Linked DNA regions of Homo sapiens. The protein of the gene in region 1 interacts with the protein of each later gene in a biochemical or structural test. Each region holds a gene or a part of one and is shown on either strand. Other genes may lie near its edges. The genes, in order: RNF139 and UBE2J2.

Region 1 (12,135 bases):
ACCCCAGCCTCCTGAGTAAGATAGGACTACAGGCACCCACCACCAAGTATGGCTATTATTTTAAATATTTATTTTTGCAGAGACAGGGTCTCACTACACTGCTCAACCTAGAAGTGACTGTCTATATATTGACATAAGGTAGACATCTAGTATAATTTATTTCCAAAGGTGTAACAAAATGATCATTAATTCAACAGTCCATATTTACCTCAATGTACTTCAATTCTATCTCTGAAACACATTATTTCTATATATACATTGGTGTCTGTTTCTGGGCTATGTAATTATAAATAAGGCTAAGTACTAATCTATTTGTCTATCCCAATGGTTCTCAACCATGATTTGGCAATATCCAGGGACAGTTTTGGCTGTCACACTGGGGTGTGGGGGTGCAAGGTGCTACTGGCATCTAATGGGCAGGGGATAGTGATGCTGCTAAAAATCTTACAGTGCACAGGAGAGCTCCCATCCGCAAACAAAGAATTATCCTGTCCAAAATGTCAATACTGCCACTGTTGAGAAATCTCTGTCTATTCCTCTGCCAGTGATAATTACTTCGGCTTTGTTTTTTCACTTCAGAGGTTTTCTGAAGTCTTTTTCGGCACCAAAAATAGCTATCTCATTTCTTTCAAGAACTTTATTGCATGGCTAGACCTAATACAATGAACAGATTTGTATCAATACATATTTAGATTAAGTTTGTTGCTTTGTTATTTCCAGTAATGCTTGCCCATAGTCCTTAAGCAAACTATCTCTCTAGGCCAATTCCCTAGAATTGAAATTGTGAGTCAAAAGTTGTACGAGCCAGGCATCCCAGCTACTTGGGAGGCTGAGGCAGGAGAATCGCTTGAACCTGGGAGGTGGAGGTTGCAGTGTGCTGAGATCACGCCACTGCACTCCAGCCTTGGTGACAGAGTGAGACTGTCTCAAAAACAAAACAAAACACTGAGAAGTCAGTTGTAAATGACAGTTGATACTGCCAAATGGTTTTACACTGAAATTAAGAGTCTTCCGGGCCAGGCACGGTGGCTCACGCCTGTAATCCCAGCACTCTGGGAGGACGATGTGGGCAGATCACCTGAGGTCGGGAGTTGGAGAACAGCCTGACCAACATGGAGAAAACCTGTCTCTACTAAAAATAGAAAAAAATTTGCCGGGGGTGGTGGCGCTTGCCTGTAATCATCCTAGCTACTCGGGAGGCTGAGGCCGGAGAATCGCCCGAACCTGGGAGGTGGAAGTTGTGGTGAGCCGAGATCACGCCATTGCACTCCGGCCTGGGCAACAAGAGCAAACTCCGTCTCAAAAAAAAAAAAAAGTCTTCCAAAATTGTATAAATTTACCTATTTCAAAAAGGTAAATACCTTTGCAAAACTAATAAAACTTTGAACTCTTCACCAATCTGATAAATTTTTTTTGACTTTTTTTTTTTTTTTGAGACAGTCTCGCTCTATCGCCCAGGCTGGAGTGCAGTGGCGCGATCTTGGCTCACTGCAACCTCCACCTCCCCGATTCGAGAGATTCTCGTGCCTCAGCCTCCACAGTAGCTGGGACTATGGGCAGGAGTCACTGCACCCGGCTAATTTTTTGGTAGACACGGGTTGTGCCATTTGGCCAAGCTGGTGTCAAACTCCTGGCCTCAAGCAATCTGCCTGCCTCAGCCTCCCAAAGTGCTGGGATTATAGGCGTGAGCCACCGTAAGCGGTCTTGACAGTATTTAATTATAAACAAGGCTAGGTACTTTTTTTTTTCCCCCATAAAATCAAGCTACTGCAGGAAGGGCTAAATACTTTTTCTCTTGCTTATTGAACATCTGCATTTTGTTTATTGTGAATTGCTTGTCTTAGGCATTTTCCTAAGGGAGTATAAGTTTTTTCTTGTTTTGTTTTGTTTTTTTTTTTAGACAGAGTCTCACTCTATCCCCAGGCTGGAGTGCAGTGGAGCGATCTCGGCTCACTGCAACCTGCAACTCCCTGGTTCAAGCGATTCTCCTGCCTCAGCTTCCCTGGCAGGGTAAAACTCTTACTGGAACGTGAATCACTTATGATAGAAGTATTTTATCTCAGTTTGTCATTTAAGGATTCTTTTTTAAGCTTTGCCATAAAAAAGCTTTTTATTTTTATGTACTGAAATTTTTCAGATTTTTCCTTGGAACTTCTGGGTCTTCTGTTATGTTTAAAGCCTTTTCCCACCTCAATGAATTATCACCATATTAGTAATACTATTAAAACAAACTCCTAGGCTTGCATTTTCTGCCTTGGATTTAAATTTGCTAACTCAGCATTATGCTGCTCTGGGTTGAGTTTCGTTTAGTATTTAACATCCCTTAAAACACAGCTTTATGTTCTTCAATATTCCATATATTGTCATAGAATTTTATTTGGATCTCCAAAATGAGTTGCTTTATTTTCTAACCGGTTGAAATCTCAAATTAGTTTGATATCAAATGAAGGTACAGTTGTAGCACCATTTTGTAGGTAGAGGGGAGTAAATACTTCTACCACCACACATAAAACTGGTAATGCTTTTTACTTAGAGATTTCCATTTTTACACATTAATTTTAAAGAAAAAAGTGAGGTTGACAAGTGGTAAGACTTATACACAGTAGTACTGAGAAGTCTACAACTACAAAAAAACTAACAAGGCAGAACGATTAATTTCAACTATCCATTGGCATATTTACACACAAACCTGTGTCTTTTAGTAACATAATTTTTTAGCACCGAAATCAGTTTTTTTCATTCTTATCATCCTTACAAATGTGAAAAATTAGCATAATTACATGACACAGTAAGAAGAGTCGGATGATAGATTTGAAGAGTATTTCGTATTTCTCAAAGTCTGATCCAGAGATTCCAGGGATCAAAATTTTCAAATAAACAACACCAATATTTTGCCGATGATTTCAAAAGACCAAAATATCTAACAAAATATGGTATTAAATGAAGCATTAAAATAGATTTATTGTCTTTAACACCCTATGAAACAGATAACCTCACTCTCCATCTTTTAAAAGGTAAAAATAAGAAACCAAAGCACTGAGCAGTTGCCTTAAGTCATGTTGTTCTTTGTCAAACACAAACTTCCAAGATTTATTACAAAAGAAACATGCCTAGTACAAGGAAAATATCAGATTGCTTTGTTCAATGTTCTTACACTACAAATTATTTAATTAAAGAAAATACTTCTTTTCCTTGAAGCTGCCTAACCTGAAGCTCAACAGACTACTGCATTAAAGCACCAGGTCCCAAAGGGATTCTCACAGAATCTGCAGTTATCATGCTGTAAGAATATTCAAAGCAGTCACTACACTGTTTCTGGGATGAACATGCAGAATCCTCTCAAACAGAGCCCAGTTTTTAACACAAATTATGGTGGTGGTATACGTTAGCAGTGGCAAGTAGGAAAGGCTGGAATTAGGTAGCAGGTGGGTTACTGAAGCAGCTTGGGCTGAACATCACGTTTACATCTTTAGTTTTAAGATCTAGCATATGATCATTACTACTGCATTCTGTATCTGGATTGCAGCTGTTAGGGAGGAAAGTAAACCATATTTAATGTCAAAAGATTTTTAAGCTCAGGCTCTGGCAACCACTTAGCGGCAGCCTACCAAGAGCAAAACACTTAACCTCTATGACCCTGTTTCCTGGTTTGTAAAATGACAATACCACCACCCACCTCTGGGGGATGTTTGAAGGTTAGGTTAGATAATACCTACCAGTGAAAATGCTTTGCAAAAGGAAAATACCAGATAAATGTAAAATATGGCTATTTATTGCTAAGAACAAAATTCGGCCTTTATTGCCACTCCTCTTTTGAAGGAATAAAGCAACAGATGGCTTGTAATTCAGAAAGGCTTGGTAAAGACCTCACCATCAGTCTGCCCTCAGCAACACTTCAAAAGCACTAGCCTACTTAAGACCGATCACCAGAATTACCTCATCAACAAAATTTGCCAAGTTACAATTACTTAAAAAATTATTTTACGCATAAATGCATCTCCCTCTGATGATGTAAGTGAAGATGGAAAGGAAGAAATGAAATATAAGATACTTTTAACACTCCATCCATACGAAACAAAGACAATGATTTTCAGAAGTCTCTTTGGCAAATGTCTCATCACTTTTTACAGTCACTTTCAATACCTTCTCGTTTATTCATGGAAAATTTTAGGACTCGATTTAAGCATCGCCGCTTTCATGAGAATTTTTGGTAATGGTTTCAAGGTCTGACATTCAAAACCCTGTCTCCTTCGCTTGGATGTCATTTACTGCAGACACTTCACGATCCTGTGGACCCTCGGGTGCAGCAGAAGTGACAACATACAAGTACTCGGCATTTGGTAATAAAGGGAAACTGAGGCCCACGCCTTGGCAGAAGTCCAAGGTCACACACGACGAGACTGGGATAGCAGAGTTGTTTTTCGAAGGCTGTCGCATAGGACGCGGTAAGCCAGTACTCATTTCCCAAGGCAAACGGGCAAAGAGCTGCATGCTCACACATCCTTACTTTCTCCCCACCTCACTCAGGTACAACACTGAATCCTCGCTAGGGGGACTGCTCCGCTGTCAACTCAGACAAGTATCATCTCCTTCCCCCTCCCAACCCGTAAAGACGACCCTTTGAGGGATGAAACTGTAGTTCCCAAAGACACATACTCGACCCATGGCCTCTGCGCGCCTGCCCGCTCCCCGGGGAACGTCTCGGCCCGCATAGCCGTCCCGGGACGTACGGTACCCTGTTCCCTTACCAAAGAGCCGGAGGAAGATCTGGAGCACGATGCAGAACCGGCTTTGGCTGGAATCCGGGTAGGAGTTGAAGATGGCGTCGATGATGTAAAGGCAGGGCACCCGGAGCGCCACTTCGAGCGCCGCCCAGACCTGCTGATGGGCCATCCGCACCTGCTGCTGCGGGGGCCCCACGGCCGCCATGAGCCGCTGCCACACCAGGGCTCGGTGGGCCGGGCAGGGCCGCGCGGGGCAGGGCCCGGGGCCGCGGCCGGGGGCGGGGGCTAAGGCGGGCAACTCCGCCCCTGCCCTCCTTCCTCTCCTGTCTCTCTCACGGCCAGCCCCGCCGCCCGCTCGCGTCCCTCGAGGTGGAGCAGGCGGCGGAGGCAGCGATGGCCGAGAGGGCGGCGGCGGCGGCTCCCCAGGAGGTCTCTGGGTTTCGGTGTTTCCGGCTGGCTAAGGTCTGACTCCTCCTCCCTCCACTGCCTCCCCCGCCCGCGGAGCCACCATCTTGACCTCGCCCGCTGGCCTCTGCCGTTGCTGCTGTGGCTAGGCCCGGAGGCTGCGCCGTCAGTCAAGCGAACCGCAGAGTCCGCGCCCACTGCCTGCGTCATAATCCAGCGTCATAATCCAGCGCTAGAGACGCTCCCCATGTCGTCATCACCCATGGTTGCCATGGTTTCCGCCCACCTCCTCAGCTTACTCTAGCTTCGTGCCACCCCGTGGCGCATGCGCTTTTCGGTAGCCGCGCTTTCCGGCGTTGGAGTTGCAGCTTCACCCTCGCAGATTCGGCTTAGCGAGCGAGTCGGTGCTTCCGCGGATCAAAATTATTAGCCGTTTTATTAGAGCCCATTAAACGTTGCATAAACATGGTTCAGAGCTGCCTGGGAGAAGAAAAGCCAAAGGATGCCACCCTCTCGATTTATCCCACCCTCGGGAGTCTGAAAGCCGACGCCAGGAGAAATCCCGCGAAGGCCGCCCGGGATCCTGGTAGAGGCGACGCTGTGTGCGTTTATGGAGCGCTTGCGGTGCGTGGCACTAGGCTGGGTGTGGTGGGTGCTGCCGAAAAAAGGGTTCCTCCCATCCATTTGCACGTCACCCTTCCCACCTCCTGCCCAGATGGACAGAAGTGAGGACATTCATCGGCCGCATTTTACTAATGGCAAGGAGATAGCGACTGAAGGGCAAGAACCTAGGGTTTCCTGTCTTTGATATTTCTCATCTTTGAGGTAAGTACACCTGGACAGTCCCTTCCTTCCTCCTCAGGGCTCATGCTTTCTTGCCTATCCGTGTAATTAATATGATCTGGCTATCTTTGTCTTTGTTCCGAAACTTCAGCTGCAAATGAAAGTGTAAGTTAGGTCTGAGTCTGCACTATAGACCTAGCTATCCTAGGTTAAAGGGGATAAAATAGGAATCAAGAAGCCTGGCCCGCTTGGGCTCCCAGCTCAAGTGCATTCTGCAATCCAGTTTATATTAGGCCTCCATGTGGGTGGCTATCCTTTATCAAGATCCCCCCCAGGGGGAGGAGGATTATTAGTCACATTATCAAACTCCCCTCCAACCCCTTTCTCTGCTTAGAGGTATGTGTAATGTGTAGTAGAAAGACCGAATCCCCACCCAAAAGTCCTTACTGCTACTCATGTTTTTAACCTTCTGTTCTTTACCCTACTCCCTAATAATGACCGCCATCATTTATCTACTGCTTAATGGATACTAGGCACTGTGCTAAGGGTTTTATGTTTTACTTCAATCTTTTCATCGGCTTTATTTTGATAGTTTGTTTTATAGAGGAGGAAACAGACTTAGGTAAGTTACAAGATGACAAGGTTACTACCTTGTTCAGTTAGTAGTCAGCAGCTAGTATATCCAAAGATAGTACGAGTCAGAACTAGGATTATAAACTCAGGGCTACCTGAAACTCACAACTTCAGGCATCTTTGATTTCTTCTTTTCACCCACAGCCAATTCTTCAACTAAATTGTATCCATTCTGTTTTCACCGTCTCTTGTACTGGTCTCCTTTCTATTGTAACTGTCATCATCCTAACTCAAGATCCTTCTGTAGCTTTCCCCGGTTATTGGAATATCCTTATTACGACTGCCACCTTTTCTAATCCAGTCTGTTTACTACTGCCGGGTTAATTTCCCCAAACTGCATGTCTGGGGAATAACCTTGTGGTTATGACAGAATTCCCAAAGGAAAGCAAACTTGGCAAGGTGCAAAGACTATGAAGACTTAGAACTTAAGAGTTCTATGGAGATCTTCAGAAATATAAATTAGCTACTCAACATATCTGTTATTCTGCCCTGATTGCACTGTAAAGCAAAAGGAGAGAGGCCATTATGGGGAAAAAGATCCAAAAGGACTCATCTAAAACACAAGTTGGGTAGAGGAGATAGGTGAGTACTATTATATTATGTTCATGGAAAATGAGTTCATGGGCTTTCCTCTAATTTTTATTTTAAAAATAAATGTAAATATTAAATAAAATTTTTTAAATGAACAAATGCTTCAGTCTTTATTAATGTTTTAACTGTCCCTGATCTTAATTTGATGTACAAATTTTATTAGTGTAAGAGTTTCTTTGACTAAATTCCATCTTGGGCCGAGAACTTTCAGGAGCGGTGGCAGTCTTTTTTTTTTTTCACACAGCTTCTCCAAGCAGGCTCTCTGCCAAACTTGTCCAACCCACCTTATTTTGTTACTGTTGTTGTTCTGTTTTGTTTTAGGCTGTTAACAGCCTGAAGCCATGGTTTTTAGTTTCTGTTTCTAGTGATAAGCGGAAAAGAGAGATGAGGAGGTATTTACTGACCCAACCAGAAGCGGAAACTAAGAACCCATGACTGTATTATCTCCCTTGGACACCCCTGTGTGAGCTCTCTTTCTCCATCTATAAAATGAAGGTTTGAATGAGGTCCTGGCAACTGTGTTAAAATACTACGTTAAAATTAAATTTATAGTAATGAGGTAATTTATAGGATGCTTAGGAATTTTTAAGATAAAAGATGTTTCCAGCTGGGTGTGGTGGCTTATGCCTGAAATCCCGGCACTTTGGGAGGCCAAGGAGGGTGGATTGCTTGAGCCAGAAGTTCAAGACGAGCCTGTCCAACAAGGCAAAACTATATCTTTACAAAAAAATTGTAAAAATAGCTGGATGTGGGCTGGGCGCGGTGGCTCACACCTGTAATTCCAGCACTTTGAGAGGCCGAGGCGGGCGGATCACAAGGTCAGGAGTTCGAGATCAGCCTGGCCGACATGGTAAAACCCCCATGTCTATTAAATATACAAAAATTAGCCGGGTGTGATGGTGGGCACCTGTAATCCCAACTACTTGGGAGGCTGAGGCAGGAGAATTGCTTAAACCCGAGAGGCGGAGGTTGCAGTGAGCCAGGATGGCGCCACTGCACTGCAGCCTGGGTGACAGAGTGAGACTCTGTCTTGGGGGAAAAAAAAATAGCTGGGCATGGTGGCATAGGCCTGTGGTACCAGCTGCTCAGGAGGCTGAGGTGGGAGGATCACTTGAGCCTGCCTTGAGCCTGGGTAGCAGAGGTTGCAGTGAGCCAAGATCACGCCACTGTACTCTAGCCTGGGTGACAGAGTGAGACCCTGTCTCAAAAAAAAGGTAATGTTTCCAAGAAATAGCTACAATTCACTGAATCTAATCTTTGCTTGATTTCTGCATTGATTTGAATGTTGCACAACTCAGGTGTACATTTATATTGAGTCTGCACAGTGTGGTTCATGAGTGTGTGTGTGTGTGTGTGTGAATACACACACACACAAACTGTATACATAGAATACTCGTGTTTGAAAATAACAATCTGTTATAAATCCTTCAGATTTAACAGCTCAGAAAGCCTTTTAGTAGCTTTCAAAACTTTTACAGGTAGGATGTGTAAAAACTAGTTTGAATTTTCTCTTGACATTTGCATTAATGAAGTCTTTGTTTCCTACAACAGAAACTGATTCTTCTGGGTTATCTTAAGCAAAAAGGGAATTTATTAAGGGGTTATTTTCATTATTCCTCAAGATTTCAAGTCCCAGGAGAGACCACCTATATTAGGCCATTCTTGCATTGCTATAAGTACCTGAGGCTGAGTAATTTATAAGAAAAGAAGTTTAATTGGCTCACGGTTCTACAGGCTGTACAGGAAACCTAGTGCCTGCATCTGCTTCTGGGGAGGCCTCAGGAAGCTTTTGCTCATGGTGGAAGGTGAAGTAGGATCAGGCACTTCACATGGCAAAAACAGGAGCGAGGGGGTGGGGATAGGTGTCACACACTTTTAAACAATCAGATCTCATGAGAACTCACTATGGTGAGGACAACACCAAGCCATCAGGGATCAGTCCCCATGACCCAAACACCACCAGGCCCTACCTCTAACTGGGAATTACATCTCAACATGAGATTTGCAGGGGAGATCCAAATTACATCACCATCCAATTGGTCAAGCTTATTGGATCATGTATCTGCACCCTAGCTTCTGTAGTGGGAGGAGGCAGTAGGAAACATGCACTTGGATTTAACCCCTTCACTCCCCACTTCTACTAATATGTATTTTCTTCAAGTGGAAGATAGGGATACTGGTAGGAAGGGTAGTGTCCTAGTCTGTATTCTGTGGTTTATAACAGAATGCCTGAAACTGGGTAATTTATAAAGAAAAGGAATTCATTTCTGGCAGTTAGGGAGGAGGCTGAGAATTTCAAGGTGGAGGGACCACATCTGGGGAGAATCTTGTTGCTGGTGGGGACTGCAGGGATCAGGGGGGCTGAGCATGCCCACTCAGGCCTTTCTTCCTCTTTTTATGAAGCCACCAGTCCCAGGCCAGGCACGGTGGCTCACGCCTGTAATCCCAGCACTTTGGGAGGCCGAGGTGGGTGGATCACCTAAGGTCAGGAGTTTGAGACAAGCCTGGCCAACGTGGTGAAACCCCATCTCTACTAAAAATACAAAAAATTAGCCTGGCGTGGTGGGAGGCTGAGGCAGGAGAATCGCTTGAACCAGGGAGGCAGAGGTTGCAGTAAGCCGAGATCACACCACTGCACTCCAGCCTGGGCAACAGAGCAAGAGTCTGTCTCAAAAAAAAAAAAAAAAAAAAAAAGCCACCAATCCCACTCTTATAGTAACCCATTAATCTATCAACCCATTAGTCCATGAATGGATCACCAGCCCTCATGACCCAATCACTTCTTAAAGGCCCCACCTTTCAGTACTGCCATATTGGGGATTAAGTTTCCAATGCATGCAATTTGGGGGACACATTCCAACCAAAGCAAGTAGGATTGATGGTGAAAATATATGCCATAACTTTTTCTCAGACCCTGGGAATTACTGCAATTGATCTCTTATCCTAAATTACTTTATGGTTTTTCTCTTCTCATTAAAGTAAATTCAGATGTGCCCATCAAAATTCTATTTGAATTTTCTGGTTTTGTAGATGCCAAATAAATAGTAAGAGTTTGTTTTTGCTACTTCTACACTGCTGTGTATGTAGAAGTGGGAATGTAAACTAGTACAACCACTATGGAAAACAGTGTGGAGACTCCTTAAAGAACTAAAACTAGAATTACCATTTGATCCAGGATTCCCACTACTGGGTTATCTACCCAGAGGAAAAGAAGTCATTACATGAAAAAGATACTTGGACATGCATGTTTATAGCAGCACACTTCGTAATTGCAAAAATGTGGAACCAACCCAAATGCCTATCAATCAATGAGTGGATAAAGAAACTGTGGTATAAATATATGACAGAATACTACTCAGCCATAAAAAGGAATGAATTAATGGCATTCGCAGCGACCTGAATGAGATAGGAGACTATTATTCTAGGTGAAGTAACTCAGGAATGGAAAACCAAATATCATATGTTCTCATAAGTGGGAGCTAAGCTATGAAAATGCAAAGGCATAAGAATGACATGATAGAATTTGGGGACTCGGGGAAAGGGTGGGAAGAGGGTAAGGGATAAAAGACTACAAATTGGGTTCAGTGTATACTGCTTGGGTGATGGGTAGACCAAAATCTCACAAATCACCACTAAAGAACTTACCTGTGAAACCAAATACTACCTGTTCCCCAAAAACCTATGGAAATAAAAAATATTTTAAGTTTGTTGCATAAGTTAAAGGAAACAACAGAGAATATAGTGGTATTTGAAGTAAATGTTGAGTATATACTGACTGTGGTTTGTTCATTCAGCAGACATTTACTGAATACTTTCTATGTGCTTGGCAGTATGCTAGCCCTCTTCTGCCTCTTTCTAGTTCTGTGTCTTGAGGCAAAGTATTTAAGCTGTCTAATCTTTAGTATCATTTGGGGAAAAGAATATTGCCACATAAGATATGAAATACATGACATGCACTATCCAATTTAGCCCTCACCAAACTTGTCCAAGGACACAGAACTAATCAGTCAATAGTAGTGGCAGAGCCAGGTTTCTGATTCATATTTTTCTGATTCCAGAGCCTAAGATCTGATCCTCTGCAAGTATGTTCTCTTGCTTTTTTACAAGAATTAAAGCAATACATCTTAAATACCTAGTATAGCATGTAGTAAACCAATTGTAGGAGATACACTCATTGGAACCCCTGTTACTACACACAGCACTTTGCAGTGCACAGCACTTTGCAGTGACTCCATTTATGACTCAGGAGTGCTGTGAAGATATTAGTTCGAATTATTGTATGAAATAAGTAGGACTTAATTTACATTAGAATATGAGTGAATGATAAAATATGTTCATCTTCGGTGACGGTCAAGCATAATCTGAGGACTGAGATACTGCTGAGAGGAAGAATACAGGTAATACTTAAGTTGAAAACATCTGTCAAAGCAGAGAGCCCAGAGAAGATGGCTATAGTATCCCACTGATGGGAAGTATAGGACCTTTCACCTTAGGTGGGATCCTGTAATCCGGGTTTCTGATAATTGCTTCTCATTTCACAGTTACACCCAACTGGATATAATAAAACTTCAAGATGGAAGATTCAGTATTGTAAAGATGTTGACCTATATATTCTATGTAATCTCAATTAAAAAAAAATCTCAGCAGGTTCTTTTTTCCAAAAATCAAAAAGCCAATTTTAAAATTCCTAAGAAACTGGAAAAGGTCAAGAATACCTAAGGCAGTCTTAAAAAACAAAGTTGAAGGATTTATACTGTGAGACATCAGGACCTATTCTAAGCTATAGTAATGAAGACGAGATAGTATTGGTGCATGGATAGAAAAACTGACCCATGGAACAGAACAGAACAGAAAGTCTAGAAAAACTCCACACATATAGGGTCACTTGATTCATTAGAAAAGTGACACTAGAGTGCAGTGGGAAACATGATAAGCCAACAATATAATAGGACTCTGGATACTGCTTAACAAAGGACAGCATATCACTTAATGGTGAAAC
Region 2 (11,439 bases), on another chromosome or scaffold:
AGGCTGGAGGGCAGTGGCGCGATCTCGGCTCACTGCAGGCTCCGCCCCCCGGGTTCACGCCATTCTCCTGCCTCAGCCTCCTGAGTACCTGGGACTACAGGCGCCCGCCACCACGTCTGGCTAATTTTCTGTATTTTTAGTAGAGACGGGGTTTCACCGTGTTAGCCAGGATGGTCTCGATCTCCTGACCTCGTGATCCGCCCACCTCGGCCTCCCAAAGTGCTGGGATTACAGGCATAAGCCACTGCGCCCAGCCTAATTTTTGTATATTTTTTTAGTAGAGATGGGGTTTCACCATATTGGCCAGGCTGGTCTTGATCTCTTGACCTGGTGATCCGCCTGCCTCGGCCTCCCAAAGTGCTGAGATTACGGGTGTGAACCACTGCGCCCGGCCACCTTTTTCTTAAGACAAGGAGAACGACTCCCTTTTGGGTACCCCATTTGGTTTCTAGCTCGGACGTGCGTTCCTAAGGGTCTTCTCTGTTGCTTTTTCTCCCAAAATTAAGCCCAACTGGCTTGTGCGTGCATTTGCATGAGGAACTGAATTGTTCTTTGCATAGATAAATGAGAGACTGAGTTTTCTCAGCTCCAGAAAGAAAGGCATTTTGCTCCTCCCAGCTGAAAGGCGCCCCTGGGTGACTGTGAGCCAAGTGGGAGTATCTCGTGGGCTGATCCCCCACGACGTGCAGCAGCCCCACAGGGAACCCCCCAACACAATTAGTTTAAAAAGGTTTGTCTGCTGGGTGCAGTGGCTCACGCCTGTAATCCCAGCACTTTGGGAGGCCGAGGCGGGTGGATCACGAGGTCAGGTGATCGAGACCATCCTGGCTAACACGGTGAAACCTCGTCTCTGCTAAAAACACAAAAAATTAGCCGGGCATTGTGGCGGGAGCCTGTAGTCCCAGCTACTTGGGAGGCTGAGGCGGGAGAATGGCGTGAACCCGGGAGGCAGAGCTTGCAGTGAGCCGAGATCGTGCCACTGCACTCCAGCCTGGGCGACAGAGCGAGACTCCGTCTCAAAAAAAAAAAAAAAAAAAAGGTTTGTCCAGGAAATGCACATAGGAGCTGGTCACTCTGTGTTTTGAGTCCTCTCGGAGGTGTTGGACTTCTAGAGAGAGAAACAGAGACACGTAAGAGGGCGAAGATGCCTCAGTGGTGACACACTGGGGAGTCCCGCCCACGACCCGTCCACGACCGGCACACTCAACCTGCTCCACGGAACCCCATTCCACAGCTCGGTTCCTCTGCGCCCCACCTGCTCCACGGAACCCCAGTTCCTCCATACTCAACCTGCTCCACGGAACCCCAGGCCACAGCTCAGTTCCTCCGCGCCCCACCTGCTCCATGGAACCCCAGGCCACAGCTCGGTTCCTTTCAAGAAAAAAAAAAGTGGGAAATAAATAATGTAAGCCTCAGCAAAGACAAGAGGGCGACCTCCTTCCAGGCACCCCGCTGGTTTCAGGCGCCTCTACCTGCAAGTGTTGGTATAAAACTGAACATGTCGCGGGCATGCTGGGTTTCCTAGTGCCCCAGCTGGTTCCATATTATGGTCTTTTGGGGCACATTTTAAACTGATGGGCAAATTCCATCCAGGAAAAATTCAGAGCCCAAAGGTCAGCCTGCAACTACAGAACCATAGAGTTCCTGGCCAGGCGCAGTGGCTCACGCCTGTAATCCCAGCACTTTTGGAGGCCAAGGCGGGCGGATCACCTGAGGTCAGGAGTTCGAGACCAGCCTGACCGACAGAGTGAAACCCCATCACTACTAAAAATACAAAAATGAGCCGAGCGTGGTGGCATGCACCTGTAATCCCAGCTACTTGGGAGGCTTAGGCAGGAGAATAGCTTGAATCTAGAAGGCGGAGGTTGCAGTGAGCTGAGATCGTGCCATTGCACCCCAGCCAGGGCTGCAAGAACAAAACTCTGTTTCAAAAAAAAAAAAAAAAAAGAACTATAGAGTTCCTAAGTTCTCTATCTCTCTGTTTCCTTTGCTGCCTGCCTTAAAGCTGCTGTTACACTTTTTGTTTTTTTTAGGTAGAGTCTCACTGTGTTGCCCAGGCTAGAGTGCAGGGGTGCGATCTCGGCGCACTGCAAACTCTGCCTCCTGGGTTCAAACGATTCTCCTGCCTCAGCCTTCCAAGTAGCCAGGATTACAGGTGTGCGCCACCACGCCTGGCTAGTTTTTGTAAATTTAGTAGAGACGTGGTTTCACCATGTTGGCCAGGCTGGTCTTGAACTCCTGGCCTGAGGCAATCCACTCACCTTGGCCTCCCAAAGTGCTGGGATTACAGTTGTGAGCCACCGTGCCTGACCAGCTGTTACTTTTCTACTGAGATGACATCCACAGTTTGCATCTAGATGTTTCTTTCTGTTATTGTTTTTCTAACTAGTGACTTTGTGTTGATATGTCATGGTTAGAGGTGTAAAGCAAAAGCTGTAGGGTTTTTGGATGAGTGTATATGTGTGTTTAGATGTGTTTATGTGTACGTGCGTGGATTCTGATACATGTTTTGTGGCCACAAGGTATCAAAGTGGCTTAAGGAGTATGCATACATTTAGTACATAATAACAAATTTCATGTGACTTAAGTAAAAAATTTTTTTTTTTTTGAGACGGAGTCTCGCTCTGTCCCCCAGGCTGGAGTGCGGTGGTGCGATCTGGGCTCACTGCAAGCTCTGCCTTCTGGGTTCAGGCCATTCTCCTGCCTCAGCCTCCCGAGTAGCTGGGACTACAGGCGCCCGCTACCACGCCCGGCTAATTTTTTGTATATTTTAGTAGAGACGGGGTTTCACCATGTTAGCCAGGACGGTCTCCATCTCCTGACCTCGTGATGTACCTGCCTCGGCCTCCCAAAGTGCTGGGATTACAGGCGTGAGCCACCGTGCCCGGCCAAAAGTATTGGTAAAGTAATATAAGGAGTGTCTTAAAAACTGTCAGCATACATTTTTGTTTGCATTTATTGATTTATAAGGGGTCAAAACTTGGCATAAGCATTGTAAAACTCTAAACCCAGCTGAAGGCCAGGCATGGGGACTCACACCTGTAATCCCAGAACTTTGGGAGGCCGAGGCAGGTAGATCACCTGAGATCAGGAATTGGAGACCAGCCTGGCCAACATGGCAAAACCCCGTCTCTACTGAAAAATACAAAAATTAGCCAGGTGTGGTAGCACATGCCTGTAATCCCAGCTACTTGGGAAGCTGAGGCCGGAGAATCACTTGGACCTGGGAGGGGGAGGTTGCAGTGAGCCGAGATTGCACCATCGCACTCCAGCCTGGGCGACAGAGTGAGACTCCATCTAAAAAAAAAAAAATTATAGGAAAACGTTCTTTCTACAAAAATTCTTATTATAAGGTAAATAATTTTGTCTAATTCAAAGCTTATTTAAAGTTTATGTATAAAATGAGTTAAAAAGAACAAGGAAATAAGAGAGACCAAGGAAAGTTATAGATATAAAGAGGTCTTTTTGTTAAGTAAGGTTAAAAAAAATAATTTTATATGAGAAAGAATCTTGTATGGTAAATTTTTGTCCTTAAATAAATGACTGGTTGTTTAAAAAAAGGGATGTTCAGCACAAACTAGAAAGTCCACATGTCGTGAACGGTCTGTGTAAGCTGCAATACCTTTGGTAAAAAAGGAATTTATAAAAATGTTACATGATAGATCGGGTGTGGTGGCTCATGCCTGCAATCCCAACACTTTGGGAGGCCAAGGAGGGCGGATCACTTGAGGTCAGGAGTTCAAGACCAGCCTGGCCAACATGGTGAAACCCTGTCTCTACAAAAATATAAAAATTAGCCAGGCATGGTGGTGCATGCCTGTAGTTCCAGCTGCTCAGGAGGCTGGGGCAGGAGACTCAATGGAACCTGGGAGGCGGAGGTTGCAGTGAGCCGAGATCATGCCACTGTACTCCAGCCTGGGCGACAGAGTGAGACTCCAACTTTAAAAAAAAAAATTGTTTTAAGAGGTAATGAATGCTGGTCCATGTCCATTCCTATCTGGCCTACAAAATTTAATGGGCTGTAAATCTTTTAACTGTAAGTCCCTGGGTCATAGGGAGTCAAACTGAGGGACAGGATTGACTGAGGGTGGGCAGCCACACTCGCCCAGCAACGCTGAGACACAATAAAGATTTGGTGGACATGGATGTTGCCTCTGGCAAATCTTGGCCAGAAGGGGGTGAATGTAAACCAAAAATTAAATTCTAAGGCCCCCCCAGCCGTCCAAATGGACCCTTCCTCTCAGCCAAGGGCGTTCCAGTGTTAACCTGGGAACTTGTTCAGGCCATGGCGGGAAGGGGTCGTGGGTCATGCCTCCTCCCTTTTGAAATTCAGGAAAAGCTGACTAGCATTAACATCAACACAGGCCTTAAGTCTGATAGGAAACATTAACAATCTATTCTCTCTGAAGCCGGCAACCCGAGGCTTCAGCTGCGTGGAAAACCACAACCCCTTACTGCAACCCAGACATTCCTTTCTATTGATAATAACTCTTTCAACCACTGTCGGTCAGGATCATTTTGAATCTGCCTATAACATAGAGGTCTCCCCACACCACCCCAATTTATCCTGCTCTTTCAGATTGAACCCGTGTAAATAAATCATGTCTCCCTAAAATGTATAAAAGCGAGCTGTGCCACATGCACCTTGGGCACCTCCCGAGATGTCATGGGTGTGTCCTTAACCTTGGCAAAACAAACTTTCTAAAGGGACTGAGACCTTCCTCAGTTTGCACCCTCCAGGCTGGGTTCTCTGTCCCTCAAGCATCCCCTGGCCAGACAATCCCTGCTGTTCAGAGGCAGCCAAGGCTTTCTGGTCCAACCCTGGGGGCTGGAGGAGGTGGGGGCAGGAGGTGGTAACTGGGTTGGGGGATGTTTTCTTGGTTGCCAAAGCAGAGGGTGCCCCCCGCTGCTCAAGATGCTGAGGGTGGTCCCTGTTGTCCTATTCCTGAAGCTGCCAGAGGAAGTCCCTCCGGAGGGCTGGCCCACAGCAGAAGGGCTGCTCCTGCCCTCAGAGGGCAATCTCAGGGTTGAGAAGGTTACAGCCACCATCTGCCACCAACCTAGCTGCTTGTGCCGATCCCACTGGCCAAGGCCATCGGCTCTATGGCTAGAGGCCTGGGCAGCCTGTGTCCTGCTTACCAGAAGGCCACAGATGCGGGTGGGTGGGGTGGTGGGGTCTTGGCAAGACGTGCTGGCCACACCTGTCCGGGGCACCTTCTCCCTGGGGTGTGACTCAGCCATGCTCCTGAGCAGGGGCCTCTGAGTTGAGCCTCGCTGCAGTCTTCCCAGCTGCAGGGCCCCCACAGGTGTGCTGTCATCGCACACTACTGAGGGACAGACAAGGCAGAGCGGGCCTCCATCTGCCGCGGGCCACAGCCGTGAGTGTGCATGCGAGTGGATGTGCTGGTGCCTGTATCTGCGGCCGGTGTGGCTTCCCTCACATAACTTTCCATGCTGTGAAAACAGTTTGGCCTGCCCTGCATGGGAACGGCAGAGGCCTGAGAGGAGGCAGAGGAAGGAGGCTGGATGCTGAGATGTTCTCCGAAGGTGGAGCCGGTGACGGCAGTAATGGAGGCAGGCTGGATTCCCACGGGCTGAGGCTGCGTGGACACTCCTCCTGGCTTCTGCCCCACGGCCTGCAGCAACGTCTCAGACCCACCAAGGTGTCCCAGAGGGCCAGAGTCAGGGCTGAGCATGGACACAGCCTGCCCTCTGCCCGTAGCCACAGCGGGACTGACCCTCAATATTCAGCCACCTTGCTGACCTGTGGTTGTTCCTGAGAGGCAGTCAGGGTTGGGGCAAAGGAGAGGGCCACAGGCAGCCAGGTGGCGAGGTCCACCTCCTGATCCCCCACCAGGGGACCACCCTCAGCTCCCCGCTGTCCTCAGCGGCCTCTCAGGGAGGCGGTGGGCTGCGCGCCTGCCCCCAGCGTCCCACCCCAGCGCCCCGCCACCTACCGCTCTCTCCCAATGTGTCTGGGGTCAGAGAGAGGTGGAGAGGACGCAGCGCCCCGCGCTTTCTGCAGTCTGTCCAAGGGGAGGTCAGGGGCATCCCGGGGCTGGGCAGGCACCTGCAGGGGAGGGTGCTGCGGCGCGGACGTGGGTTGCAAAGAGATGCCACGCGTGTCACTCTCGGGTCCCTGAACGAGAGAGCTCTGAGCTCCCTGGAGCCCAACCCTCCACTGAGCCTCCAGGGGCCCGGGACGCTCCATGCCCGGGCCGCGCCGCGCCTCCCCTAAGGGCCGGGTGGGGCGTGGGAGCGGAGGACAAGGCGGGAGCCGGGAGGCGGGAGGGTCGGGGTTCTTTCTCCACCGGGGTCGCCCTCAGCCGGGCCTGCCGCCCTGGGCCGTGGCACATGGGGAGGGAAGCGCGCGGCTTCGGGGTCTGGGGCTCTCGCGCCCACTAACGGTGCCCGGAGCCGCCCGCCAGTGCGCAAGCGCCGCCCCGCCCCCCGCCCCATCCCCCACCCCGGGGTCGACGGCGACAGAGAGTCGTGGGCGCGGTCCGCCAGTCTGCCTAGAGCGGCCAGCCCTCCCCCTCCCTCCTCACCGCCCCGGACCGCGCACCGGAAGCAGAAGCTAGGCTGGTTCCGCCCCGCGAGCGGCCATCTTGGAGGCTGAGGCGGCGGCGGCGGCGCTGCGGCGGGTTCGGTGGGCCCAATCCCGGGGCGGTGCGGCTGTTTCGGGCGCGGGCCCCGCTTTTCCGCACCCTGCTCCGGCCTCGACTACGGCGAGCCTGAGCGCGGCGGCGGCCCACGCGCAGCGACAGGGAGAGGTGAGCGCGCTCGCAGGCCTGCGCCGGGTCCTCGGGCCCGCTCGTCCCCCCTGCCGGAGCCGGCCACAGCGGCGGCCCGGGGCTGCTGGGGACCCTGCGCGACGCTTCTCCGTTCGCGCCCGCCGCCCGCGGGGCCCCGGCCCGAGCCTGCCTGCGCGGAACCCGAGGTCGGTTACGGCGGGCTCCCGGAGCTCCGGGTCAGGGTCATGTCGGGGACTTGACCACTCGGCCGGGTTTCCCGTCAGCTGGGACACTTGCAGCTGCCCCAGGACGGGCAGCCTCGATCCTGGTTCGTCAGTGGATCACGGGAGTCTGTGTCGGGGGAGGGCTGCCGTCGAGCCCGCCGTCGCCTCGCCCCTGAACTGTTAGACTCCAGACTGCCCCGTAAACCCCGAGAGAAACGAGCGTGCCCGGGACTGTGCTTAGGGCCAGCGTTTCTGGGAAACCCGGGCGGTGACAGTGGGAGACCACCGCCGGCCGGCGAGTGAGACACGAGCCCGGAACAAGTCTCTAAGCGGCGCCGGGCCTCGCCATCCACACCTGCCAGTTCCCTGCATCCTTTCAGCCCCTGGCCAGGTGTCACCTCCTGGCGTCCTTTTCAGTGCCTGCCACTTAGTGCGTGTGTATTTAACTCTAGTCCGGTTGCCATCCTCTTGCCAGACCCAGATAGGAAGCGGCTGAAAGGTCGGGCCTCAGCCCGGTGGGAGGTGGGCAGCGAAGAGTGTACAGCGGGCTTGGCTGGGGCAGGTCGGTGGCCCCGCGCCCTGCTCCAGGGGAACCAGACTGTGTAATCTGGCTTCCGAAGAAAGGATCGTGAGTATCTCGCTTAGTCTAGCACCTGAGCCTAGGGCGTGGTTGGGTCTGGGTGCCCGGAACTTGCAGTCCGTCATCTGCACGGCCTGGCACCGCTGACCTCCTTAGCAGTTCCACTCTCGGCAGGGATGTGCGTGAGTGACAGGCAGGTGAGCCAGGCAGGTAGGTGAGTGCTTGAGTGACAGGCAGGTGAGCCAGGCAGGTAGGTGCGTGGATGAGTGACAGGCAGGTGACCCAGGCAGGTGCATGTGTGAGTCGCAGGTGAGTGTCCCATTTCCATCGGCCCGGGCTTCCGTCCAGCCTCCGGAGCAGTCTGGTGGAGAAGGCAGAGACTTCCCTGGCAGTCCTGGACCTGGGTGTGCCATGCGCCTGGCCGATGGGTCAGGCCAAGGTTTCCTGCCACATCCCCTAAGCAGGAAAGAGCTGTCCAGACAAAGAGGGACGGGTGAGGGACGCTGGGCAGCCACTGCCTCAGCACCTGGGCACAGCTGCCCTCGGTGATTCACGCTGCTTTAATGCAGTTTCTGTGTGTGAACATTTTTTTTTCCTGTGCCTTTTTGTTTTAAAATCGCCAACTCTTTCTCTCAGCAGGATGATATGCTTGGTGTCCTTTGTCTGTGGGGATGTTTGAAGGGAACCCGAGGCACATATGCTTCAAACTCTGTTCTCACAGTTTGCTTCCTTTGTGGAATTTTTTTTTTTTGATACAGGGTCTCTGTTGGCCCAGCTAGAGTGCAGTGACATGATCTCAGTTCACTACAGCCTCCGGCTCCCGAGTTCAAGTAATTCTCCCACCTCAGCCTCCAGAGTAGCTGGGATTGCAGGTGCCCACCACCACACCCGGCTAATTTTTTTTTTTTTTTTTTTTTTTTTTTTTTGAGACGGAGTTTCGCTCTTGTTGCCCAGGCTGGAGTGCAATGGCTTGATCTTGGCCCACCACAGCCTCCACCTCCTGGATTCAAGTGATTCTCCTGCCTCAGTCACCCGAGTAGCTGGGATTACAGGCACATGCCACCATGCCTGATTAATTTTGTATTTTTAGTAGAGACGGGGTTTTACCATGTTGGTCAGGCTGGTCTCGAACCCCCGATCTCAGGTAATCTGCCTGCCTGGGCCTCCCAAAGTGTTGGGATTACAGGTGTGAGCCACCACGCCCAGCCCCTTTGTGAATTTTTGTTTTCCTTGTCCTTCCTGCTGTCATATTGGGATGAGAAGAATTGGGGGAAATAGCCCCCTGGCCTCCTGGGGGACGTGAGAATGCTGTTCTGTGTGAAGCTCAGGAAGAGTGGCTGGGGAAACAGCAGTTGAATCGTGAACATGATTTTAAAAGCCTCTCCAAGCAGGTATGGGAGAGAAGCTTGTTTGTGACTCATTGGATGGAATCTATTTTATTTTTGCGCGGCTGTCCATGAACTTTCGTTAAACCTGCGGCCTGGCCACTTAGCTAAGCCCAGACCCACCTGCACTTGAATTGTCCAGTGAATTATTTTGTATATGGCAGAGTGTTAGCTTCAGGGTGAGTGTCGAAAGGACAGCCTGTGTGGCGGTGCTGCTTGGGGTCATCACTGTGGCCATCACCAGGTGTTGGCCTGAGGGGAGATCCCTGGCCCATTGGCTTCTTTAGCCAGGAGCTGGGGATGCCACTGTGTGGAAGCACTTCCTTCCCAGGCAGGACTGTAACCCCATCCCTGGTGGGGGCCCTCCTGGGGAGGCACTCCTTAGGCAGAGGAACCCGCTGGGGCCCAGAAGGGCCCTGCGTTGTGTGTGGGGTCACATGGAGGCCAGTGATGTGTGACAGAGTGGGAGGCATTTGGCAGGGAAATCAGGGAGGCCTCTGAAGGCGGTGGCTCTGGCTATGCCGGGAAGGGCCTGGGGAGTTTCCAGTACAGGCTAGGCTGGGAAGCAGCTGTGAGAAGGAGTGTGTCGGTCAGGACTTTGGAGTGGGACCTGGGCCGTGCTGGGTCTTGGGAGTTGGGAACGAGGAGGGCTGGCTGGGGCTGCTCTGTCTTGGGAGCTGGGAATGAGGAGGGCTGGCTGGGGCTGCCTCTGTCAAGGGGCTGGCAGGCAAGAGGACGTGTTGATGTTTATTTGCTTGGCTGTGGAGTATCCTGAAGGGTGGATGGGGGAGTGGGTGATCGGAACAGTATGTTGACTTATGGGTACAGGAGGGCCTTGAAATGGGAAGAGACTAGAAGCTCAGACCTTCTGGACCCACGGGGGGAGTTGGGAGGCTCCTGTGGTGTTGATGGGAGAAGTGATGACATTTTGCGTTAGAGAAGATAATGAGAGTGGGAAGGCTGTGGTGAACAAGGATTGCAAGAGTCAGGGACCCCAGAACAAGAAGCAGGGTTGGGGGTGGTGCTGAGGCCACACATTTGGGAGCACGCGTTGGGTGCCCTGGCTGAGCTCTGCACTCCAGGCCCTGGGTGTGTGGGGTGAGCAGCCAAGCCCTGGCCATTGACATCCTCAGGTTGGGAGCAGACACTAAACAGGCTGCTGGTGGTGGTTCTCTGAGGAGGAATAAACCGGTTAGAGAGGCCAAGTCTGTAGATCTCTTGCAGGTGGAGACTGAAAGGAGGTGGAATGTGTGGCTGTCTACAGGTGTATGAGTTGGTTCTCATGCTGCTATAAAGATGTACCCGAGACTCAGTAATTTATAAAGAAAAGGGGTTTAATGGACTCACAGTTCCGTGTGGCCAGGGAGGCCTCAGGAAACTTACAATCATGGCGGAAGGGGAAGAGGCATGTCTCACATGGCAGCAGGCTAGAGAGAGCGGGCAAGAGCAGGGAACACTGCCTTATAAACCATCAGATCTCCTGAGAACTCGCTTTCACTGGAACGGCTTGGGGAAACTGCTCCCATGATCCAGTCACCTCCCACAAGGTCCCTCCCTCAACATGGGGGATTATGGGGATTACAAGTCAATATAAGATTTGGGTGGGGACATAGCCAAAGCATATCAGCAAGGAAACTGGGTAGAGTAGACTTCCGGTTTGTGGGAACTGGGAGGTCAGGATGGAGATCACTGGTCACTGTCCGTTATCGATGGCCACTGATGTCCACAGACGTTATTAAATCGTGTGGCCATGGCTGGGCGCGGGGACTCACGCCTGTAATCCCAGCACTTTGGGAGGCCGAGGTGGGCAGATTACCTGAGGTCAGGAGTTCGAGACCAGCCTGACCAACATGGTGAAACCCCGTCTCTACTAAAAATACAAAAAAAATTTGCTTGGCATGGTGGCAGGCACCTGTAATCCCAGCTACTTGAGTGGCTGAGGCAGGAGAATCACTTGAACCCAGGAGGCAGAGGTTGCAGTGAGCGGAGATCACACCACTGCACTCCAACCTGGGCAACGAACAGTGAGATTCTATCTCAAAAAAAAAAAAAAAATAAGGTTTGAGTTGGAGCTAGTCTGATGCAGCAGGGAGCCCTGTTTTCATCACCACCCCTCTCCCCAGTCTCAGGTGTGGCTGAGGGGCCTTGGGGTCCCTGATCCAGCCTCCTCTCTTGCATGATGATCACCACCCCTCTCCCCAGTCTCGGGTGTGGCTGAGGGGCTTTGGGGTCCCTGATCCAGCCTCCTCTCTTGCATGATGATCACCACCCCTCTCCCCAGTCTCGGGTGTGGCTGAGGGGCCTTGGGGTCCCTGATCCAGCCTCCTCTCTTGCATGATGATCACCACCCCTCTCCCCAGTCTCGGGTGTGGCTGAGGGGCCTTGGGGTCCCTGATCCAGCCTCCTCTCTTGCATGGTGCCTCGCGCCCCATGCTCGGCCTTCAGTGCTGTCTTGAACGTCCCAATGGAGCCACCAGAGTGACTTTCCTAACAGAAGATATGATCTGCCTTGAGGC

What was found.
Region 2: the proteins of RNF139 (region 1) and UBE2J2 form a complex in vitro, tested with the Homo sapiens proteins (one study listed by BioGRID).

Annotation. Positions count from the first base shown.
Region 1 is NC_000008.11:124,467,904-124,480,038, reverse strand, and holds the start of RNF139 (E3 ubiquitin-protein ligase RNF139), read right to left. Parts: upstream 5,160-12,135; 5' UTR 4,930-5,159; coding exon 4,749-4,929; intron 1-4,748. UniProt on the Homo sapiens protein: E3-ubiquitin ligase; acts as a negative regulator of cell proliferation through mechanisms involving G2/M arrest and cell death.
Region 2 is NC_000001.11:1,269,000-1,280,438, reverse strand, and holds the start of UBE2J2 (ubiquitin-conjugating enzyme E2 J2), read left to right. Parts: upstream 1-6,584; 5' UTR 6,585-6,773; exon of another isoform or gene 6,774-7,586; intron 7,587-11,439. UniProt on the Homo sapiens protein: Catalyzes the covalent attachment of ubiquitin to other proteins. Seems to function in the selective degradation of misfolded membrane proteins from the endoplasmic reticulum (ERAD).